2 linked regions of the Homo sapiens genome follow. The protein of the gene in region 2 interacts with the protein of the main gene of each other region in a pairwise test. Each region holds a gene or a part of one and is shown on either strand. Other genes may lie near its edges.

Region 1 (3,817 bases), on a different chromosome or scaffold from region 2:
TTCCCCGGTGGCAAGCCTGCCCTGATTCTCTGGGCATGGCAGAGGCAGGCACCAAAACAACTCAAATACCTGGAGGAGAAGCGAGCACCGTCTCAATGCTCATTCTTTCTCAACACCACCTACAGCCATTTCCAGAAACAGCTGCTGGCAGTGGCCCAAACAAAGCCCCTCAAAAAGAAACTGGGCAGTGAGATGAGGGGGCAAGATGAGGGAAATAAGCAACCCAGACACACAAACAGCTTCCCTTTGAGAGAAGACAGGGGAGGGTGGTGACCCCAAGTGATGCAAGCAGAGGAGGCTCCCGTCACTCCCGCTCTGTGTTTGGCTGAGGTTAGAAGAGCCACTTTCAGAACCACCTCCTCTTGCAAGCCCCAGTTTCACTAATAAGCCGTTGACCTTGAGTTTGAGTCTGGGGTTGATTTGCGGCTCTGTCTGGGGGAACCCCAAGGGCCTGTGGTTTCACAAGAAGCAATCCTCCTCATTTTCACAGCGATCGTTTTTCCTCTCCTCTCGCCACTGTGATCAAATTAGGAGGCTGCTTCTCCTAGGAGAAAATGTGTCCATGGTCCCAGGAGGCACTGCCCATTTACCTGTCTGATGGGTTTGGGGAGGGAAAGCAGGATGTATGTGTGTGTGTGTGTGTGTGTGTGTGTGTGTGTGTGTGTCCCTTCCTTCCCTTGTCCCTGGGAGTGTCTCTCCCACCTGGATTGGCCACCCGGCCTGCAGCAAGGACCCCAGGGAGGGCAGGCGCTGGAGTCTCAGCTGCAGGAGGCCTGGCAAGTGGCTGTGTACATGCTGCTGCCCGCCGTGGCTCCACTGCTCAGGCTGCTGGTGGGACACTTGAGGGGCTTCATGCTGCTGTCCCTCTGGATGTGCAAGTGCTCAAGCCGCCAGCGCTCCCAGCTCTTCCGAAATTCCAGCTGGACCTTCCATGGGAAAAGGAGGGAAACGAAAGCCATCATGCAAACCAATGGCTAACAAAATGGCCCCACTATTACATTAGTGGGGAAGGGAAGAAATCCACTGCATTATATTAAGAGACACAAGTCAAGGCCTTCGGGCTCCTAAATTAATATCCCAATAAAATTGTTTATTGTTGTCTCCTATTTTCTGCAGCTCCTCAGGAGAGAGATCAGCTTGATGACCTAATTGGTCTTTTCCATCTCTAAACTCTGTGATTCAGCTAAGTACCTTTTACAATCCATCACAGTATTATTTAACGGAAGAGAATGAGAGGGAGGGTGAAACACAGGGAGACAGGAGATGGGAGAGAGAAGAGAGACTCTGTCTTTACAGCGCACAGTCCAGTTTCAGCTTGGATGCTTGAGAAGGGGGACGGCAACCCCCAGCCTTCCTGGTGTCTACAGCAGACCCTTCTAAACTCCCTGAGGGCTTCTCTCCAGGCCCCAGCACCTCACAGGGGAGGAGGGAGGGAAGGAAGGAATGTGGCTGAGACGGGAAACAGCAGGGAGGAAGGGGCAGCCAGTGAGGGCTTCTCAACTGATGCCATCTAGAGAGACACTGCAGTGACCATGGGGGTGCAGCCCAGGGGAGCTCAGTCAGCCAGGATCCCTGTTGTGCTGGGCTCTGGCCTCCCCATCAGGAAAAGCCTCTCAGGAGGGCTGATGCTTGGGGGCCAGATTGTTGGGGCAGAAAGAGACAAATCCAAGTAACACTGTGGAGCCCCCATCCCTTGAGGGTTTGTGGCAATGCTGTGGCTCCCGGTGGTGGCCAGTGATTCTGGTCCCTGGAGAGGCCTAGCTGGAACCTGCCAAGCTAGTCCTGGGGGGTCTGGACTGCTCTTCTGGGTGATGTTCCCATACATTTGCTTTCCAGAGCTTCTTTGAAGTCCCCACCCTTCCCACACCAGAGTGTCTGGGGTCTGGGCCCTTCCCTTTAGGCCAAGTCACCAAGACAGCCAGATGCCAGCGGCTGTGGATAAGGGGCCAATCTCCCCACCAGCCCCTGTGCAAACAACCCTCCTCTCCTCCTTTGTCGTCCATCCAGCTATGCCCAGCAAGACGCCTGGTATGGCTGCATGCCATCCCTTAAAAGAACATTTTCTGCACTGAGTAGAGTTGAGATGGCCCAGAGGCTGCCTGCCAGGATGACGCCAGTGTCCCATGCAGCGTCATGAACCCAAGCTTGAGTGGGGGAGGGAAGGAGGCTGAGCAGACACCACCTACAGCCACCCTGTTGTATGCCAGCTCCCTGCCCGGCTGAGTCTTTGTGAAGGGAGCGCATGCTGACAGCTGGGATGGGGGCCCTGAGTCCAGTGGTGGCCCCCACTTGTGCAGCTGCCAGGAGGCCAGGCTTGTTTCATAGCCCTTCCGCTGGAGAGGGGGGGAAAGATGGTAAACTGAGGCACACCTCCGGGAAACCAGAGACCAAAGAGAGGTTTCAGGGACACCTATGGGACTTCTCAGGGTGCTGACACACAGTGTCTCCTTCTGCCCCCATCTCCTTCAGCACTTTTCCTGAACCTCTGCTGTGACCCCTGTAATCACGATTGTCCTTGAAAATCACCATATTTATTGGGCACTTACTGTATGCACAGAATTTTCCATTAATTATCTTAGCTGACTTTCACATCAACCCTGCAAAGTAGCTCCACATTTAAAGATGAGGAAACTGAGGTGCAGAGTGTTTATTTCCTCAGGTCGCTCAGCCAGGATTTGAACCTAGATCTGGCCTGATTCCAATGCCCGGCTCCTAACCCCTGGCCTCCTGCCTGCGTGGCTCTTGCAGTCCTGCTTGTCCCTGGTCCATCTCCTACCTCTCACCTGGGAGCACCTCGAGGGCTGGGACCACATCTTCTTCATCTCAGCATCCCTGAACCTAGCACAGTGCCCAGCATACAGCAGGTGCTCAGTACATGTGTTTTAAATGAACCAAATGAATGAACACATAAATGCATGAGCATCTCACATCAGGTTCCTTCTGTTCCTCAGCTATGAAAATGAACCCACAAAGACAACACCACAGATTCTGAGCACCTGGGCTGGGACTTAGGCCACCACACTTCCTCCTCCACCATCGGATTTTTATCCTCATCCCTGCCCTCGACCTCTGCAGTGCAGCACACCCCTCCTGACCTCCCTCTCCAGCAGGCACCATGCCAGCCTCAGGATTCGGGGTGAATTGGGAAGCTCATTCACCTTCATTTACGGCTGGGGAGACAGAGGCAAGGGAGGCAAAATGACTTGCCCCAGGTCACACAGCTCGGCAGTGGCAGGGCTGGGACAAGCACTCAGGGCTCTGAGTCACCTCACTGTGGCTCTCAGGCACAAGCTACAGCAAAACCACCTTCAGGCCTCCCCCTCCCTGTCCCCACTCACGCCCACCAGCAGCTGGTGCAGGCCTTGGCAGCCACACAGAACCAATATTCAAGCCATCTTTTCTCCTCAGGTCACAAGTACCTGGCATTGCCATGGCAACCCTGGGTCTGCAGAACAGCTCTTGTGGACAGAGGCCTTAGCCCCAGAGCCACATGTGTCTTTTGTGGCCCAGTGACAATGATGTATCTGTCCTTGTGCCTGGAGCAGCCAGGGCATGAGGAGTCTCAGGGTGGGTTTAAAGGAACTGGCTGGTGCTCTGAAGGGAGACAGGTTCTCCCGTTCTCTGAGCAGGGTCTCCTGGACCCCGTGGCACTAGCCTGGAAGATCCACGGGGAGATGCTAGCTGGGGTCTGTAGCCAGGCCTGGTCAGAGAGGTGCAACCCTGGTGATTCAGGATCAAGTTTTTTTCCAAGGGCAAAGAAGTACTATCCCCTTACAAAGGTGGGCCAGCCATAGGTGGTGCATGAGGAGGGAGGTGA
Region 2 (3,817 bases):
CGCACTCCTGACAGCTTTGCCACACTGCCAGGCCCACGTCTGGCCCTGGGCCCAGCACCGTGGTCCCTGCCTGGGCTGCCACCCCTTCCCCCACAGCTCCAGTGGCCTCCTCCTGATCCATCTGCTCTCCACACAGAGGCCCAGACAGCTCATCAGGACCCTCAATCAGCTCCTGGACGCTGGGATGGAACCCAGGCTTCTCTGCCCTGCCATGCCCTTCCACTGCCCCAGCCCACCCACACAGGCCACAGAGCCCCTTGCCTGGGAGGTCCCTACCCTAGACTCTTCTCCCAACAGGCTTAGCTGCATTCCTCAAATTCCAGCCACATCTCCAAAGGTAGAGCCTGTGCGTCTGGGGGCTCACGGCTGCTCACCAGCTCCTCTTCCTGTTTGAATCATTCGCAGGGCGGTTCCCTGCTGCGGATGTCTTGTCTACCACTCATTTGTGCATCATTCATTCATTGCCTCTCCAAAACACAACAGCAGCTCCCCACATGGGGAACGTCCTCTGCTGAGCTCACCCTTGCATCCTGAGCCCCTAGAGCACTGTGTGCAGAGCACTGTGTGCCACCTATTATGGCAGCCTGGTAAGAGCTGTACGATCCCCACTGCTACGTCACAGATGAGAACAGGGGCAGAGACCAGGTGATCTGCTCCAGGCCACACGCCCAGTGCAGAGAGCTGGGGACAACTCAGGTATCTGGCTCCAGGACCAAGCCCCTAACGGCTACACAAGCTCTCCACAGCCACCATCCCCAGGGTTTGGATTTAGGTCTAATTCCCAGAAGACTCCCACAGTGTCCATTAAATGCACAGTGATGAGGGCTCAGAAAGATGCCAATCAGAAGCCACAGTGCGCTCAACTCTGACCTCTTTGAAAGACAATCACCGTGACAAGTTTCTCAGGATTCCGGCTTGCCGCCGTGCCACCGGCAGGTCCACGTGCGTGCTGCTCTTGATCTGCATGTACGGGGCGCCGTGTCACCTGCAGGTCCACACGCGTGCTGCTCTTGATCTGCACGTACGGGGCGCCGTGCCACCTGCAGGTCCACACGCGTGTGCTGCTCTTGATCTGCATGTACGGGGTGCCGTGCCACCTGCAGGTCCACGCGTGTGCTGCTCTTGATCTGCACGTACGGGGCGCCGTGTCACCTGCAGGTCCACACGCATGCTGCTCTTGATCTGTATGTACAGGGCGCCGTGCCACCTGCAGGTCCACGCGTGTGCTGCTCTTGATCTGCACATACGGGGCGCCGTGTCCACGGCTGTTCTGACTGTCTCAGCGTGTTTGGACAAGCTTCCCATCAGCACATCTGACCTGCGGACAGGTGAGTGGACAAGCTTCCCATCAGCACGTCTGGCCCGCGGACAGGTGAGTGGACAAGCTTCCCATCAGCATGTCTGGCCAGCGGACAGGTGAGGAAGGGCTCCCTGGCGGGACGCACCATCATTTGCTCAGCCAGATGCAAGGGCTGTCCCGGTTCTCACACTGACTCCACGGCCATCCTGGTTCTTGGGCGCTGCGGTGACCAAGGAGCCTGTGGGTCCACTGATGGTGGCAGTGGGTGCTCACTAAGGGAGCCGGGTGCCTCCCACTATGACAGGTGCTGTCTGGTGGGCCGCCAGGAAGTTGCTCCAATTCCCATCCCAACAATGATGCCCAAGGTACCCCACTTCCCAACCTGGGCACCACCCAGCTTCTAATGGTGCCCAGTCTGATGGGCGGGTGGTGCCATCACCCTTCTTTGGTGTGAGGGTGGGTGTTTCCTACTTTACTCAAGTCTAATAGCTGCTTTGCTGCTGACCTGTTTTCAAACTCAGTTATTCATATTTTTCTTATTAAGGTATAGGAGACCTTTATAAAATAAGAAACATAAGCCTCTGTCTTTAATATGGGCATAAACATCTGTTTTGCTTTATTACAGCCTTCTGTGTTCTGTTCTTTACCTGTGAAATATTTTGAGGGAAAGAGTTCTTTCCTCTAGGAATGATCAAGGTTAATTCTGAATAAAGCTTAATAAGAAAGCAGAGTCTATTATGTTGCAACTAATTTTATTTCTTTGATATTTTAAATATAAATTTTCCCTCGTTATTAAAATTGAAAGGGAGGTTTTCCTAAATTACAGAAAAGTATATATAGTAGAAAAAACTTAGTACAAATCTACCAGTCTACTAGTAGAAAATCATTAACACCTTGTTATATATACATATATATATTTCTAGTCTCTATTCATGTTCTTCTATGTCTAATTAAAATATCGTATATATTTTTAACAGCTATGATATATAATTCACTTACCATACAACTTACCCATTTAAAGTATACAATTCAATGGTTTCCAGCATATTCACAAAATTACACAACTATTACCACAATCCATGTTAGAATACTTTCATCATCCCAAAAAGAAACCCTGTACCCATCAGCACTTCCTCCCCATCTCCCCCAACCTCCCCACCCTCCGGCAACCAGTAATTCATCCTGTCTGTACGGACTGGCCTAGTCTGGACGTTGGTATGAATGGAATCACACAGCGTGTGGACTTTTTGTCCGGTTCTTTCAGAAGCATCGTGCTTCATCTGTGCTATAGGATGAATCAATGTTCATTCTATATTATGGCTGAATAATATTCCTTTGCTGAATATAGTATGTTTTGTATATCTACCTGTTATCTAATTGACATTTGAGTTCTTAATACTTTTTAACTATACGAATAATGCTGCTTGAACATTCAGGTACAAGTTTTTCATTGTGGTGAAACTCTCATACAATAAAATGTACCATGTTAACCATTTCTGAGTGTGTAACTCTGTGGTATCAGGTGGATTCACACTGTTGTACCCCCATCACCACCGTGTATCAGTCTGAATGTGGATGTGTGTTTTTGTTTCTTGCGGGTAAATACCGAGGAGCGAACAGCTGGGTCAAATGGGAGCTCTGTGTTAGCGTCAGGAGGAACGTGGTCTACAATTCTGACTCTGTTTCTGTTTCTTTTGTTTTTTTTTTTTGAGATAGAGTCTTGCTCTGTCGCCCAAGCTGGAGTGCAGTGTCGTGATCTCAGCTCACTGCAACCTCTGCCTCCTGGGTTCAAGTGATTCTCCTGCCTCAGCCTCCCGAGTAGCTGGGAATACAGGCACGTGCCACCATGCCTGGCTAATTTTTTGTATTTTTAGTAGAGACGGGGTTTCACCGTGTTAGCCAGGATGGTCTCGATCTCCTGACCTCGTGATCCGCCCCCCTCAGCCTCCCAAAGCGCTAGGATGACAGGCGGAAGCCGCTGCGCCCGGCTCTCAAGCCATCTTCCTGCCTCAGCCTCCCAAAGCGCTGGGATGACAGCGTGAGCCGCTGCACCCGGCCCGATTCTGTTTCTTAAGTTTAACAGCATTACAGAGTATTTTTCCAAGTCATCAACTCTTTGTAAACATGAAGTGTCATGACTGAATTAGAACAATTTCGGTGGGATCAATACCTGTACTGCATTAATTTTTTGAATTGGAAAAAAGGGAAAAAAAAGCTTTAAAAGTGTTCTGATTAAGACAATGTCTTATGCCAGCATGTTAGACCTGCGTGTAACTGGAAAGAACGTGGCAGTGAGATCAACGTGGTGTTTGAGTTTTACAAATGCCCTGCAGTCTCTGCCAGGGCTCTGCTTGTTTCGTATGGAGAGTCCGCCCTCCGTTGAGAATAACTGGTTGTGCGTGGAAAATGCTCAGACCTCTTAACTAGAAGTCATCTCCGGCTAGCATGACAACCCTTCCTTCTGTTGTCCAAATTATGTTGTTCAACTTATGTTGGACATTGTAGCCAGAAGGAATA

The links.
Region 1: the proteins of SLC9D1 (region 2) and GLP1R interact in a protein complementation assay, tested with the Homo sapiens proteins (one study listed by BioGRID).

The regions. Positions count from the first base shown.
Region 1 is NC_000006.12:39,083,015-39,086,831, reverse strand, and holds part of GLP1R (glucagon-like peptide 1 receptor precursor), read right to left. Parts: intron 927-3,817; coding exon 759-926; 3' UTR 1-758.
Region 2 is NC_000013.11:113,528,842-113,532,658, reverse strand, and holds part of SLC9D1 (transmembrane and coiled-coil domain-containing protein 3 isoform 1 precursor), read right to left. Parts: exon of another isoform or gene 2,036-3,817; intron 1,319-2,035; coding exon of another isoform or gene 982-1,318; exon of another isoform or gene 1-981. UniProt on the Homo sapiens protein: Probable Na(+)/H(+) antiporter.